Linked DNA regions of Homo sapiens: region 1 is linked to region 2. A link means that fine-mapping ties the variant in region 2 to the expression of a gene that starts in the linked region. Tissue or cell type: whole blood. Region 2 holds a variant in brackets; the other region holds the start of a gene. All regions are shown on one strand. Distances are between the middles of the regions.

Evidence for each region. PIP is the estimated chance that this variant, and not a neighbour inherited with it, causes the effect.
Region 1: NFIB starts here. The variant in region 2 is fine-mapped to the expression of NFIB in whole blood (INTERVAL, PIP 0.98).

What each region holds. Positions count from the first base shown.
Region 1 is chr9:14,309,696-14,318,117 of GRCh38, reverse strand. NFIB (nuclear factor I B) reads left to right here and starts at 3,977. Exons shown (of 11, transcript NM_001190737.2): 1 at 3,977-4,636. The coding sequence starts at 4,607. It overlaps NFIB-AS1 (NFIB antisense RNA 1), which reads right to left and starts at 1,031. Exons shown (of 2, transcript NR_186536.1): 1 at 773-1,031. RefSeq lists a silencer at 4,274-4,568.
Region 2 is chr9:14,083,833-14,092,254 of GRCh38, reverse strand. NFIB (nuclear factor I B) reads left to right here. Exons shown (of 11, transcript NM_001190737.2): 11 at 3,929-8,422. The coding sequence ends at 3,946. Among named protein-coding and RNA genes, the nearest start is that of LINC00583, 160 kb to the right of the region's middle. The variant G/A (reference allele first, on the strand shown) is at 4,485.

The sequences.
Region 1 (8,422 bases), 230 kb before region 2:
TCACTTCTTTCTGCCTCCTCAGCCAGGTTTTGGGGTGAATGAAAGTGGCCTGTCACACCAGTGCTTTTAACCCTCTCAGTGTGGGAGGGAGAGATGAAGAGTTTAGGATTGGTAAGTACCAAAGTTTAAGAAGTGTTTGGCCCATTTTGATACTATCAGAAGCTTTTCAGAGATATTTCCACTCTTAATACCACGACACAGACGTGCTAGAAAAAATGGAAAGTGAATACAATGCAGGCACTTTCTCAGTTCCTCCTTCTACCTGGGATTTAAAAGATTGAGATTTTCAAACCAAAGGTGGTGGACAAGTGTTGTGTTAAGAGAAGCCAGGCATCCCATGCACCGAAATCCACCAGTCCCTCTTTCCAAACAACTCCCTAGAGTTCTTCCAGGGAAGGCCTGCAATGACCTTGGCATTGGCTGGACAAGAAGAAGTGTTTTGGGGGGTGTCAGCCATTCTCCACATGGCTGCAAGGCCTGAGAAGACAGTCAAAGCCATAGAAACTGAGCACCCCCATAAACCTTCTTTTTCAGGAAGTCTCTGTTGCTCACTCTTCATTCCTTTTTGGTTTTCCTCGCCTCACCATACTCCTATCTCATTTTCCTTTTTCTGGGAAACAAATCAAAACCAAAAACTATCAAGCATCCTCTATGGTCATCAAAGTGCAACCAGCCATAAGCACCCTCAAACGTGGGGCAATTGAAAGAGATTTGAACCCCTAAGTGATGGGCCTGGGAGGCCCCAGACGTCTTCACTTCTCTGGGGTCTTACCTGGATCTGACGCTGCTTCTTCGCCCTTGGTGTTGCTGAAGCTTTTGTGGGCTCTTCTGTGTAATACTTGTCAATTTTTCGTTTTTCTTTTTTAAGCTTGTGAAAAACTTTTGGATGCAACCTAGTTTTGGTGGCAGAAGGAAATGGTTTCTGTTGGGAAAGGGAAACTAATAAAGGGAGGAGGGGTAGCGATGTCGGGAGACACTTGCCCAGGGCTCAGCCCTGGGCCTCTTTTTGCCAGGGGACAACGGCTGGTTCTGGGCTCTCAGGCTGAAAGGAGTGCTCTCTGGGTGCCAGGATTTCACTGGGGGTGGTGTGGTGAGGAGGGAGGGAAGAAGGGAGGGAGGGAGAGAAGGAGAGATGGGCGCTCGATTTTTAAAGAGACCCCGAAATAATGGCTTCTATGAGAGTCCAGGCATTCAAAGAGGTGTGTTCAAGGATATTAGTGCATTCCTGCCAAGGGGAATGTCTTTTATGGTAAATTAACTCCAGTTAAATTGAATATTTGTTCAAAGGGAAACTGCAGTAGTTAAAGCTGGTATTATCAGTAGAGCTTCCCCACCCCCTCCCCTCAGAATCTGGTGAGGGTGAGAAAGGGGATGCAGTGTAATGTGCAATACAAAGTGATGCTTTCGTGCTGGTGGTTTCTCTGTGTGTGTGTGTCTGTGTGTGTTTAATCTAAGATGAGGTTGCCTAAAATTTCTGAGAGAAATGAGTATTTACTTGGATTAACCCTGTCACCTCATTTCTTTCATCCATAAAGACTGCCAACTTTATCCCAGCTTTTCAAAAAGAAGAAATGACCCGCACAAAGGAAATTAACGTTGTCAGAACGCTGACTCCAGGATTTGCCGGGGCAGGGGCGGGGACCGCAGGGAGGCCGCTCCCAGGGCGTGTGGCCGAAAGGGTTAACTCGCAGGGGTCCGCGCGATCTCCCCGACTTTACCTGTCTTCCTAGTCCCAGCAGCCCCCGTCCCCGGCCTCCCGAACTCCCCACCCCCCAGCGCCTTTCTTCTTTGGGCTCTGGGTTTACGGGGGCTGCAGCTGGTAAACTTGGCAAGCTCGCCTCATTAAGAGCGCTCTTTGAAAACGGACTGTGTTTGAGCATTTCCCTAATGAGGACAGGACGGGGTTAAAAAGTGACCATTTCATGGTTGACTTGAACCTGCCTACTTTTCTTGATGTGTCGTTGTGAAATGCTTGATGTGGATAACTCCCACTTGGTGAAGGAAAAAGTCACTGGTTCCTCCAGGTCCGCTGGGGGAGGGAAGAGGGGACGGTGGACAGAAACCAGAGGGAGTGAGAGGGGCTAAAGTTGAGGGGACAGATCACGAGCTGGGAAGCGGTGGAAAGAGGACCGGGGAATCGGGGGCGAGCCTCGAAACGCCCCAGCAGTACCCGTGGAAGCGGGGCGGCCCCGCCCTGGGGATGGGCCCGCGAGGACCCGGTAGCCCCAGCGCCCCCCGGATCCCCCAGCTAGGTAGACTCGGAGCCCCAGGCGCTCACTTTTCCTCCCTCCATTGTCTGGGAGGCCTTTGCTTCCCCCTCGTCCCCATCCACCCCAAGCAGAAAACTGGATTTGGGGGGCGGTGTGTGTATGTGGGCGGGGGGTGCAGAAAGGGTGCAAGGCGAACCGCCTTCTTCAAAATCCCTGGAATCAAGTTCATTCACTCGGAGCCTGCACGGGCGACGGGGTGGGGGCGGGGCAGCGCCGCGGTGGGGAGCCGGCGCGGGCGCCGAGCGGCTCAGGGCCCGCAGCCTCTGGAGGGCTGCAGCGGCGCGCGCGCGCCCGCCGGCCCGCCCCGCAGCCCCGGGCGCGCCGCGGCCCCGCCCCGCCTGCACCCGGGCGGGTAGGGAGACGCTTTCCGCCGGCGCCCCGGGCCCCGGGGGGTGGGGATTGGGAGCCAGCCAGCGGGGCTGCAGGAGGAGGAGGAGGAGAGCGAAGCCGGGCGCGGGGAGGAGGTGGAGGGAGCAAGAGGCGGCGGCGGCGGCTCGGCCCGGTCCTCCCGCTCAGAGCGAGGCCACGTGCACGGGGCACCCCCGGGGAGGGCGGCAAACCGCGGCGAAGCGCCGCGCGCCGCGACTGCCTCGGGTGCGGGCCCCTGGTGGGCAGACCCGGGACGAACCCGCACCCCCTCCCTATCCGCGAACCCGGGCTCCGGGCGGGGCCGTCGGGGGCTGGGCGCCGCACCCCCCTGGTCCACGCCGGCGCGCCCCAACTACTTGAGCCCAAGTTCGCTCAGGTCCCCGCCTGCTCGGCCTCCCCCTTTTCCCGGCAGCCGCAGGCTCCGCGGACTGAGCCCGCCCCGGGTGCGAGTGTCCGCGCCCCAGCCCCGGCCTGGGGGCGGCCTGGGTGTGAGGGAATTTTCCACTCGTTCCTTTCTCGGGCTCAGACGGTTTCGGTGCTTCTCCCACTCGGATGTTCCCGCGGCTTAAAAGAGTCCGCAGCGAGCACCGAAATACCTCTTCCAGGGCGGGTTTTCGGGGGTGTGTATGTGTGTGCTGGTGTGGGGAGGGCAGCGGAAAGAAGAGCTATTTTGGAAAAAAAAAAAAAGTCATGGTTCTGTAGCACCGGTAGGATACCTTTAACAAATGAGGGAGAGGTGGGGGGAGAGAAGGAGAAGGAGGAGGAGGAGGAAGGTGGGGGGGCGGGGGGTGTGGAGAGGCTGGTGCAAAAGGAATGCGCGTTTGCAGGAGGAGGAGTAAAGCGATGATTGTGTAATTAAATAATAAAACAATCCTTAAGTCTGATTTGGAGAGAGCTCGAGCGGGGTCCAGAGGGTGGAACCGGTGAATTTTTCAACTTCCAAGTTTTGCAACGAAAGAAAGCAAGAGAGGGAGGGAAAAAAAAGAGCCTAGAGCAGAAAAGAGAGGAGTTTGGAGCCGAGCGGGAGAGCGGGATTTATCGTTTGGAATTTTTCAGGAGATCGTTTTGATACCCCTGGGCTCTGGGCAGCGGCGGCAACAGCAGCCTCCACGCTCGGCCGGGTCAGACGCGGGGCGAGGCGGGCGGGCGGGCGGCCGGGCGCCGAAGACCCGGCGCGGGCGGCGGCGGCTGCTGCTGCCGGGGACCACGCGCCGCGAGCCTCTTCCGCCCCAGAGATCAGCGCTCGCGCCCCCTCCCTCACCCCGGCCTCTCCCTTCTCCCCCATCCCACCCCGCCCCCACCCCGGCCCTCTCCCGCGCGCGCCCCGCCACCCGCGCGCACTCGCTCACGCTGCCCCTCGCGCACACACATGGTCGGCTCGCGGCAAAGTTTCGCCTGCGATCACCACTCCGGGATCCTGCCGCAGTGCTTGGGGCTGTAACCTTGAACTTTCCCAGCGCGGTGACACATTCTCCCCGCTCTCCCTCCCGCCCGCCCGCTCGCCCTCCTGCGCCCTCCCGCGCCCCCCTCCCCGCCTTTTTTGAAAAAGCATTTTACCACCAACCACCACCCCAATCCAACCCACACCGAACCTTCGCGCACCCCCTACACCCCAACAACAACAACAACTGCAAAATAGAAAACAAATCCCCAAACCCAGGCGAAAAGCAGCCAACACCGGCGGCGGCGGCGGCCTCGGCAAGCACGGCCAGCGCGCTCGGACTGCAAGAGGGTTAAAAGTGTAGATTGGATTTCACCCCTGGAAATCTAGCACGCCGAGTGAACTTGAATCTTTGGCTATTTAAGGAGGACTGGGTTTGTTGTGAAGTTGCGGTGATCCAGCGCAGAGCCCCGTCCTGATTGATCGCATCGCGGGGCTCAGATGACTGTAAAATGAATAGATGAAATTCTTGCTTCTCGAAGATTTTCTTGGGCATCTCCCGGAAAGTGCGTTTTAAGGCGAAGTCATGATGTATTCTCCCATCTGTCTCACTCAGGTACATGTCTCGGTCGCTTTCTCGAGCTTTCTCTCTGGCCCGAAATGCCTTTGTTTTGTTTTGTTGCGGACAATTAGCGGCTTGAGTTAACCTCCGCACATCCCCGTCCCTTGGAGAAGTGGCCCGGAGTTGCAGCGGGCGTCGCGGGGCGGCGTGGGAGCCGGGAGCGGCCCCTCGCCACGGCCACTGCGAGCGCCCAGCCCCGCGCCCTGGGCACGGAGCGCGGGCGCTGGGCCGGGCAAGGCCGCCGGGGGGTGGGCAGGGCCGGGACCTGTAAGTGCGAGGCCCCGTGCGGCCCCTCAAGTGCCCGTTGTGGTGCGGCATCCCCGCCCGGGGTGCCCGTAGCCCCTCTCAGCAGCTCGCGCGTTGAGGTGGACTCGGGCTTTGGAGGACTTTACGGGGGACTAAGCTTTTAAAAACAGCCAGTGAACTTGGGCGAGGGGACTGTAGCACGAGTCTGTGTGGGCGCCGCTGGACTGCGCTGCAGGCGGTGGGCGGGCGACGAATCGAGTCGGAGGTTGTGGTCCGGGGACCCATTCCTTTGCTTTATTTGGGGATCTGAAACCCTGGTCCATAGTGACCTGCTGCACTTTGGGGTTTCTAGTGACCGCACCACAAAGGCAGTATTTACGTTGACACGAGTTAGTTGGTCTTGGTGATTGTTAAGGAGTTTTTAGAACGTGTTCCTTTTGTGGAAACCTGTTCATTTGACGATATTTGGGCGTAGCTCGTAAGGCATTTTAAGTAATGCTGGTAGAAGTAAGGTCATTTTTTTCGACTTTGAGAATTGTCCTAAGACCTTAGGAATAATGTTATGAAATAAAACACTGGTTTTATACTTTTTAGAAACACGATTTGTATCACTTTAAGCCAGACGGTCAAATAGAAAAGCGGCGAGACCCAACAGACTTACCTGGGGGCAGTTTTCATCGCTGCCCAGGGAACTAACAACTGACAAAGTAACTAAAATATCTTAGCCCAGAACTGTTATTTGAGGCAGTATTTTAAACCTCTAAAGGTATGGGGCAGCTTATTTCAGCTTTTCGGAAGATGTGTCACCATTGGTAATTGATAACTATTTTCTTTGACATTGCCATGAAAACTAGTCATATAAAGAAGTGTCAGCCAGTCTTGGGCGTGTTAAAATTTTAAAAACATCTAATATCACGATGATGCATTTTTATAATGGACAAATAATTAAGATTTCAATTGTATGACAATTAGAAGCCATTGTGATTCAAAAGGACTGAGGCATTCATAAATTGTGAATGAAGATGAAAACAATGATAAGGCTTATTCAGTGATTGGATACAGTCCTGTAGCTTTTTGGCTGACACATTTTTTATTGTTTATATTTTGTTTGGCATCTGAGTATGATTAACTTAGATATGGCTATTTTCAGCAAGTAAACACGCACTTTAATTTAACAAAACTGGAAAAATGAGTTGCTGAGCTATTTGTATTTTAAAAGCCATGAATGATAATAGCCAATAAATATGATGAAACTGTTTCAGGTATAACGAATTGCCTTTACTTGTAAAAGTTACCATTAATATTACCCATCGGCTGGATATATTTTTCTCTTTCTGATAAGCTGTGTTAACTTGATATTATTTTTACACCGTGATCAAATAAAACAAATCAAAGCAAGATTTTCACTTACAGAGTATAGCATCACTTATTCTCACCTGTAAAAGATTGAATAATTGTGCATTTCTCTATATTTCTAACATCAGCTTTTCAGAAACATTGCTAGCAATTACATTGCATTTTTAGTATCCTCCAAATATGTATTGAAAAGTCACTAGTTTTATCTTAATTTGTGTAAGTTAAAGATAATATTGCAGCATTGAGACAGGGAATGTTGGGATCATATACAGCATAATCATTCAGCTATCACATTAGTATTCAGAGATACACACTTAACAACAATAACTTGTGATGACTAATATTCTCTACTATTTTAATAATATAAATCTAGGCTTATGTATTAAAACAAGGCCTACACCAGGGAAGGAATTTCAGCTTAAGAATTTTCACTTCACTAAGCTCCATGTGACTTTGCAGGTAATATAGGTGTTATAAAAGTGAGGCCACATTAATAGTGTCACTTTTGTATCAGATCAGTAGTTTTGTATCACAAGAGCCTAGTAGCTGTAGAAAAACATGTCTCAGGACATGTAAATTGCAAAATAGAGTATCATTCTTAATTGGTTATAAACTTTTAAAAGTATCTCAATTGTTGCAATAAGGTATCTAGGTTTTAGAAAAAAAATCTTAATTTAAAAGGACCTACCATTAAATGTTATGTTTAGCAAAATAGTATGCTACAAAATCAGCATATCAATAACCAATATTTATACACCAGTATAAATCAGATATAAAGGAAAAATTAAGAACTATCATATGATTTAATATATGTTTAAAAATAATGTAAACCATTAATAATATAACTTTCAATTGGCATGATGGCATTAAATATATTTTTCTTTCGTTGCTTTTAAGTTCTTTAGGTACATTTTTTGCATGATTTGTTGTTATATAGCAATGCGCCAAGAGCACCTAGTATTTACTCTTCTACCTCTATGTTGGTCTAAATTATCCATCCCTTTCATGGAAACGGAAGAAAAATAAATATGCCTAGTGGAATTAAGACTCTTTATTTTTATATCTGAAATTGGTAACTTTGTTATTTACTTTGTCAATTTAGTTCAACTAAAGGAAGTTTTAAAAGAGAATTACTGAACATCAATGCATTTTACTAAAAATTCTGAAAGAGCAAAGTTGCCTATTACCTTTGTATACAGTTGTTTGGTTTTAAATCACTTATATGTTTTGCTTTTTTTAAAGAATTTATGATTGCTTAATGCTATTGTAATAATCCACTACTAGTTAGGATATTTGAAAACCTTAATCACCTTTTAAAAAAATATTTTTGTATCAGGACAGTTATTATGTTCCATATTCATGTCACTCATAATCTTTAAGACTCTAGTGTTACTCAGCATTAGGAAACAGTCACACTTGGGAGATGACATTTAGGCATGTTAATACAGAAATATATGCGACTTACAGCAAACCTCAATTTACAGTCATTTTTGGAGGATATGTCCCCTTGTCAAATAAGTGCTTCACTTGAATTCACATAATAGTGAAACCCTGAACGATATCAATAAGGCAAACTGGCAGCCTGAGAAAGTTTGCTACTTTTATTTCTCAAAAAAAAGAGCATGTTTTAAAACAATATTGGCAGCATTGACAGCAAAGTCAAAGGAACGTTTAAAAACTGTGTGCATTTGCTAAGAATTTTCAAATTCAACCTTCAAATTTGAATTTTGGTTGTTTAAAATAACTCATTAAAATTTTGAGCTTTCTTGTGTGATAGATTATATTTATAATCAAATATTGAAACTCAAATTTAATCAAAACTGTGTTTGATGTCTTTATAAGAAAATGAAATGTCACTGAACATAGTACTTAAGGTGTAAGTACTTACGTGTTACCACATGGCTTAATATTTATAAAATAATATTGCATTTTAAAAAGCATGGCAAGGGTAAAATGAGTGAGACAGAGCCCACCCACTCCACCTCATGTGCTCTTTACATTCTCAAGGTTTTAGTTTTGTGAGTGCATATATGTGTGTTTTTTAGTCATATCAATAAATCGTAGTAAAAGATTATAGGAAGTGAGTTTCCAAAGCACATTTAAGTCCACATTTCCTTGAGCAGGCTTTCCTTTTGCATATATTCCTAAAGGGGATAAACAAAGTTTTTGTAGTTACAG
Region 2 (8,422 bases):
AGCGGTCTACATTCCTTTCCACATCAACTGCTATATCTTCCCTGTCTACCCTTAGCTGTTCTGCAATGACATAATTTGGTGAGTTTTTCAATAAGTAAATGCCATAAAGTTAGGTTTTCTTCCACAGTGCTACCTAGAAGAAATACAGTACTTCAGAGGTAGTCTTACCAATAACAAAATGAAGCAGGACCATCACCAGTAATGCATCTTAAGCTCTAAATAATTCATTTGCTTCTTCCCTTTTGGGGGGAGCCATGTCATACATTTGGTCAAAATAGCAAGAAAATAGTATCCATGATATCAAACATTTTATTTTTGGAATTTTGATTTAGCTCTTATGTATTCATTTTATAATGAACTATCTCATTATATGCATAGTAATAGTCATTAGGATGAGCTGTACTTTGTGTTAAGGTACTATCAAATTCTTTTGTGTTTTTTTCTGCTTGATTTTTTTGCAAAGTAATTATATCTTTTCTTTTTTAAATGGTTATATCTACTTTATATTTTCTAAAGATGTGCTTTCAACTTTCAGCTATGCTCATCTTCTCTTTGCCTAAACAAATGTGATTTGGTAATGAAAAATTTGATTAAAACAAAGGAAATGCACACTTATAAAGATATATTGCTGAAGTAGCTGAATTTGAGCTTGAATATTTTGAAATCCTTTCAGTTATATTCTCATTTCTTTTATTGGAATGCAGATAGTTGGAATGAACATAAGATTATCCATATAGTAATTCTCACTATGAATTAAAACTATTAAGCATTTTACATGTAACTAATTTGTTTTTGTGTGTTTATTTTATCCATACATGTGATTATTGATTTTTATATAGAGTTAGATGTATAAAAAGCACTATTACATTTTTACCTGAGTAAGTATGCAATTTTAGACATTGCATTTTTGAAATTAAATAATCTGTATTACTTTAATTAAATATATTTATTTACATTGTTATCTCAGTCATTGAATTAGTTTTATCAAGTTTTTTTTTTTAACAGGACTACCAAAAATAGCTCTAAAAAATGTCTGTGCCTTATAGTTCTGAACTTAAATTGGCAATAAGAGACTTGTAAAACTCATATATGGGGTCTGCATAGTGTTAATGTTTGAGATTTATTTTCCCCCAAAGGTTCATAAACAGTATTGACAAATATATTGCACTCTGCAATTTTGATATGGTCATAATGTAGGATGGGCGGTTTGAAAGATTTAAATAAACATTTAAATTAAATTTGGTAGGCATTCTGCAGCAAGAGTCCTGTTAGTTACTAGCATCAATTTATTTTTATTGAACATTTTCCAAAGAATAATGACATATGTCTCTTCTAAAGAACTGAGTAAGAGAGCTATTGCAAAATAAACCCTGAGTTTTCTGCCATTAGTTGGTAGACTTGTCCATGTAAGGAGCCACATCTATTTTCAATCATTAAAATATACTTTATATCCCTAAAGCATGCAATCTCCAAATGACTTTCTTGAGCTCACTTAATTTGGCACTCTTGTTAATTTTGCAAAGCAATTTGCTGCTTGTTGACATTGTATTTTACTGTCAAGGATTATCTGCTTTACCTAGTCCTTTTGCTTTTGGTACATGCTTCTTACTTCAAGTTAAAAATAATGTATAACCATTTTTGTAATTTATTTTATTTGTTAAGAAATAGCACCAGCTATGCTCAGACTCTATAAAGATAGATGTGACTAGGTCGTTTTCTCTGTGAAGTTCACCTTTCAGTTAGTAAGATAATCCCAGATAGAGATATTTATGAAGTAATAAATGCTGTAACAGGACCATGTACAAAGTGCAGTGGAAACACAGTTGAGGGTAAAATAAGTTTCATGATTCATTATGTAACATTGTTCCCAATCAATGGTGCAAAGCACAAAAATAATTGTTGAAGATGTGTGTGGGAAGATAAATATGTGAAAACAGTTAAGCTGCTTAGTAAAAGTTTCAATAACAAGTATTCTTAAGAGTTACGATTTTTCATCAGATTTTGAGGACGTGTCTTTTTAGTTTGAATGTGATTATTCCTGCTTAATCAATTTTTGTTAATGCTAAGTAGATCTAATTTTAAATTCAGAGATACCTATTTTCTTTTTATAGGGGATCAAATCACAACATATTCATGAGTATATGTAATCTTGGGTGACAGCTTTTGAAAATATATAGCTGGGTGTGATTTGAAACAATTAATTGATTTGTTTGTCTAAAAAGGTATTGAGCATCTTCCATGTGCTAGGTACTTTACTAGAGACGGACTTTGCTGTCATTGAGTTTGTAGTCTAATTATAAAATCCCTTGAGCACAAATGGTCGTTGTGATATTGTTTTGAAATGTTAACTCAGAAATATGTATGTGTAGCAACAAGCAACATTTTGTATCGAGGTATCACCAGAGTAAAAACAGTATGTATCAAGTTTTAAAAAAAATTCAGAATTGTTCCTTTAGGTTGATATTCTGTAAAGGTTTTTGTACTTTTGGAATTCAAATATGAACAAATGAGCATATCTAGATTGATAGCTACAACAATAGTGCTATCTCACTTCATGGTTTCAAAAGTAAAGCAAAGGATGTTCAGTGAAATTTAAAACCTCGAAAGTATGTTTCCATGCTAGGCCATGACTAATATGAGTACTGAATTGTCAGTTTGATGTTTTCTTGGTTCATGATTATTTATGCAGCTGTTACTTAACTGACATTCATTCGGATTTGAGTGTTGGAACAGGCAATACATTAGATTAAGTGTACCCAAAATGTGTGCTGTAGAGTTGTTTCATGATATGTAGATCTGATTTTTTTTATCCTCCATATGATACTTTTTAAAGGGAGATTATGCTAGTAGCAATTAGAGAATTGTTTTCCAGTCTTTTTTTTTTTTTTTTAACAGCCTGTAATTCAGCATAGGCGAAAGTTGAACTGATGAGAGTAAGGCTGGAATCTTATCATTTACTGCCTCCAACACCCCCAACCCCCAACCCGCCATCTATCACTCCAAACTCCTCAAGTGCAGAGCAGCTCAAATGTGGTATCATTACTGATGGGGAGGAGCAGGAAATGCTCAGGCTTCTGTTGCAAGCCAATGTAGGGAACCATGAATTGGAAGGAAAAGCTGTGGCTCTCTCTAAAAGTAAGTTAAAGAGGGTTAGAATAAGAAAACTGCTGGAGAGCTATAGAACTAATCAGTGCAAGCAGAGACCTTTGTGGCCTCCTGTAAATGTTTTTCCTCACGATGGGTATTCTGTAGAGAACAAAAAAAGCTGTGTTCCATTTTGGTTCTATGATTCTTATTTGTTCGGTCTTTACTAAAAAACTCTGATTAAGGTATGTTTGATAATTGGGCATTTCAAATTGTATGTTATGCATGGGCCTACCTTAAACATGTAGTTTTTTTTCCTGTTGTAAGGAGAAAAGAAATATCTTTCACCGTACTTTTCAATTGTATTCAACCCAATAGGCAGGTAAGAAATTGAAACCCATCTGACCACTGAATTGCTTGTGAATTAAAGGTAAAATAAGATTAGAATGTAACTGGCAAAGTATATTGGTACCAACAGATTGCTGCTTTTCTTTTTCTTTTTTTTCCTGTACAAAAAAGAATGATATTGCATTTATATTGATTAATGTAAAATATTTTAGAATATCCTCAATCGGTTAGAATTCAATAATTGTTTATATATCTTACTCTGGATTTTTCTGCCTCACTTTAGTCTTAATTTTCATTTAAAAAATAGACTATAGAGTTTAGATAGGTGTAACATGTATAATTTGGCACATTTATCTCATATTAGACTGTAATTTTGAAAATAGGGATAGCAATAATTTGATGCATCTGGAATTTATATTTCTCATATTGTTGTAGATTTTAACATTGTATTTTTTTCTTTTTTCTTCCCTCCCTGCTGCCTCTCTCCTCTCAACAGTCCTGGTACCTGGGCTAGCTTGGTTCCTTTCCAAGTGTCAAATAGGACACCCATCTTACCGGCCAATGTCCAAAATTACGGTTTGAACATAATTGGAGAACCTTTCCTTCAAGCAGAAACAAGCAACTGAGGGAAAAAGAAACACAACAATAGTTTAAGAAATTTTTTTTTTAAATAAAAAAAAAGGAAAAGAGGAAGACTGGACAAAACAACACAAAGGCAGAAAGGAAAGAAACTGAAGAAAGAAGATAATAGACCAGCAATTGCAGCACTTACAATCACTAATTCCCTTAAGGTTGAAACTGTAATGACATAAAAAGGGTCGATGATATTTCACTGATGGTAGATCGCAGCCCCTGCAACGTAGCCTTTGTTACATGAAGTCCGCTGGGAAATAGATGTTCTGTCTCTATGACAATATATTTTAACTGACTTTCTAGATGCCTTAATATTTGCATGATAAGCTAGTTTTATTGGTTTAGTATTCTTGTTGTTTACGCATGGAATCACTATTCCTGGTTATCTCACCAACGAAGGCTAGGAGGCGGCGTCAGAG[G/A]TGCTGGGTGACAGAGCCATGAGCCAGCCATTTTATAAGCACTCTGATTTCTAAAAGTTAAAAAAAATATATGAAATCTCTGTAGCCTTTAGTTATCAGTACAGATTTATTAAATTTCGGCCCTTAACCCAGCCTTTTCCAGTGTGTAACCCAGTTTGAAATCTTAAAAAAAGAAAAAATGAAAAAAAAAGGAAAAAAAGAAAAAAGGAAAAAAACAGTTTGAACACAAAGGCTCTATGGAAGAAATGCCTCTATGTAGGTGAAGTGTTCTCTCTGCATGCAACAGTAAAAATTAATATAATATTTTCCCCACAAAAGAAACACTTAACAGAGGCAAGTGCAATTTATAAATTTATATCTAAAGGGGAATCATGATTATAAGTCCTTCAGCCCTTGGACTCTAAATTGAGGGGATTAAAAAGAATTTAAAATAATTTTGAACGAATTTATTTTCCCCTCAGTTTTTGAGGGCATTAAAAAGGCATTAAATCAAGACAAATCATGTGCTTGAGAAAAATAAAATTAATGAAAACACAGCACTTATGTTGGTTTAGCTGCAGCCTCCTTGGAGGTAGAATTTATTTATTTAAAATTACTGGTTGCATCAAGAACCCATAGGGTGTACAAAAGGTTCTATAAAATCTGCATTATAGAGACAAAGAGGCAGGCAAATCCATGTCACAAGGGTAAAGCTTACAGTTTACAAACTGGGAACGCCAGGGTGTAGGATATAAAAACGCACTCTTGAGAAAACAAATGTAATCAGGGTGCTGAAAACTTGCATGGTGCTTTCAGACATTAGCCTTGTTCAACAAATTTCTTGTATTGACAGATCCATAGTGTGCATGGGCAGACACATTTTGCCTCTATGTCTCTTAAAATTTTAATTAAAAATACTCTTTCCAGTAATCCTAATTTGCACGAAGATATAATGTCCACATTACGTGCCTTGCCTTGAAATCTAAAAAACAAAAAACAAAAAAAAAAAAACAAAAAAATACAACAAAGTGACATCACTACACTTGTTTTGCTGCATTTATTATCATTTTAAATCTTTACCATTTTTATGACAAAATATTTTGTACTCCAGACGAAGAAAAATGTGTGACATCATGGATTTTTTAGACAGTTATACCTTTATCTCACATTTATAAAGCATATCATGGCTGTGTATAGTTGCCGCTTAAAAATTGTAATCGACCAGCAATATTTTCAGTATTTTGGTGTTTTTTTCTATTAACCTTTCATGTTTTTCATCTTCCAATTAATATTTGGGGGGGAGGGGTTTCAAATTTATACGAATTATGCAATACCAAGTTTTGCCTATGTAGGTAGTGCTTTTAGCTGTATTGGTTATTATAGGTAAGTACACAGATTTAAAAAAAAAATAATGTATGCTTTTTTGTTTGTTTGTTTGTTTTAATTGACCAAAGTGGGTACTGCTATTTTTGCAGTGTGATGAGGTCCTTTTGTGTACTGAGAGATGGACAGGGGATTTTTTTTAATATACATATATATATATTCTGGGGTGGGTGGGAGGATTTTTAACACTTTGCAGTGTAGCTGTGAAGCAGTGCACCCTGAGATGGGCCTGGGCTGCAAAGCGACTGTTCTGCCTACTGTGACAAACTTCAACTTACACAGGTTCCCCTCTCTAACTTCCCACCTGGGTTGCAAGCTGAACTCATTACTGGTTTTCATAACAACACAATAGTAAGAACAAGCAAACACAACAAATTCTCCTGGAGGCAGACTTGGCTTAAAAAGGCAGACTTGGCTTGGTGATAGTTTTTCTTGAAAGTTCCAGATCCACAGTGGAGAGTGAGCCTGTCTCATATTTGGCAAAAATATTTGTTGAAATGTCCACATAGGGGATGTTGGATGTTTAACACTTTTGAGAGTTTAACACATGAATATTCTTTCTCCTAGAAAACACATTAGACCTGTTGGAGGGAGTCTCCCGTATTCCTTTTCTGCCACTTTTCGTCCCCATTTCATTTCATTAATGATAGGATATGATTTACCTGTGACTTACTACTTCAAATGGATGGCAGTGCACTTGGATTTTTTTTTAATATCCAGAAGATTGAACAGAGGGTTGCTATTGTTGAATGTATTTGGACTGATAGATTAAAATCAAAGTTCAATTTTTAAGGAACAAAAAAGTAAATCCTGTTTTCATTTTATCTCCCCTTTTAAAACTGAGAACCAGAGCAGAAGGGAAATATAGAATTTTAAGCAATTAATCTTCCTGTGGATGAATTAAACCCATTAGATGCTGATGGGATTTTTTTAAGGAATGGTACCTTAACTATATATTTGATTTCGTTTCCCCTGAGGGCTAGAGGCTGAATGGAGGCTGGTTTTATTTTGCCTTTCCCTCACCGCCCAGTCCCATTGAGTGTATTCATTACTAGAAGGAAAATCTTTCAGAATTGGTGACACATGGTAGGCTGTCTTAAGGAGTCCCCTGGCCCCCTTCCCCTAGGCCATGGCCTAATAAAATAAACTGTCAATTGTTCTCACAGCATATCATTTAATAATGAATACTTTAGAACAATGCTTATGGGCTGGAGAATTGTATTTGATTAGCCCATTCAGTTTGATAGCCCAAATGCTGAACAGCACAGCGGGATCCTAGCAGTGCAAGTTCAAAAGTAAGTCCAATCATTTCTGTGATACTCGCCCTGGTAGCAAACAGATCATCTCAGCCAAGCTCTTCATGTATCTTTGACCTATTAGGTGAACAAATGAACCTCACAGGACACACAGTATTTTTTAAAGGCAGACTCGCTCTCTTTTTTGCCAGTGAGCAGTTCTAGCTAACCAAGTTACACACTGTGGGTATTCCTGCCTGCCTCTTGAATACAAAGGCCTAGTTCAAGTGTTGCTTTTTTTATTTCAAATCAATTTTTTCTTCTTTCCTTTTTGAGATAAAACTATTAAAAGTACTACTATATATATAAAATCTCAAATCAACTTTTCGGCCTCCTCCTCGTGTACCAGGAAGTATATTCTGACGAAGGGCCCCACTTTTGCAGGTCTTGCACGCCCCTCCCTTACCCAGAACTGCAGAGCTTCAGGATGGCGAAGGTCACCCAAGGGCATGAGTAGGGAGTGGTGTCTCCAACCATCAGTTCCGTGGCACTGTTCAGCCTTTGTGTGCTGCCCTGCCACCCACCACTCACAGTGCCTCTGAAGCGTGTTACCCCTGGAGTGACGTGAGCATTTGAGGCTTGTCTAAGGAAAAAAATAAAAGGCAGTGAAGGAGACTGTACATAAAGACATGGCAAAAATCTTAATTATAGCAATATAGTTATCGGGTAATGTTCGGGTGGGCAGCTCCATTAAAAAATATGTGAATGAATCTGTGAAGCTGCAAGTAGCGAGAAGAGCGAAAGGTCTTCTTAATGAACCGCCTACCTTGTAGACAGTAATTTGTACACTGTATAGTTTTGTTAAGAATTTTTTTTAAATTAAAATTCCCATGTTTGTAAAGCTAACTTTTTAACAATTATAATGGAACTATATGTTGTTTCCATTTTTAAAGTAAACAAGAATATTCCTTGTTTAGAGACTGGACTTGAGTTAAAACTCTCCAGTCTCTTAAGTTATGTATTAAAAAGAAAATCTGTCCATGTTAGGAGTTATTTCACAGATTCCTGTGCTTGAAAAGCATAGGATACTAATCCTTTAAAAAAGTGTAAATGGAGAAAAGTTATATTTTATGAAGGTTATTTTGTTGTATTTAGTATTGGAAAAGTTGGTTTCCAGAGCATTTCAGAATGTCGAAGCACCACTGTCTTTTTATTAGTATATACGGCCTTTAGCAAAAGTTTTTGTGATTGTTACGTGATGGTATTTAAGGTTAAGTTTCACAGAGCATTCAGGATAGGCAGAAAACTAAAACAGTGCTATGTCTCACATAACGTGTCCTC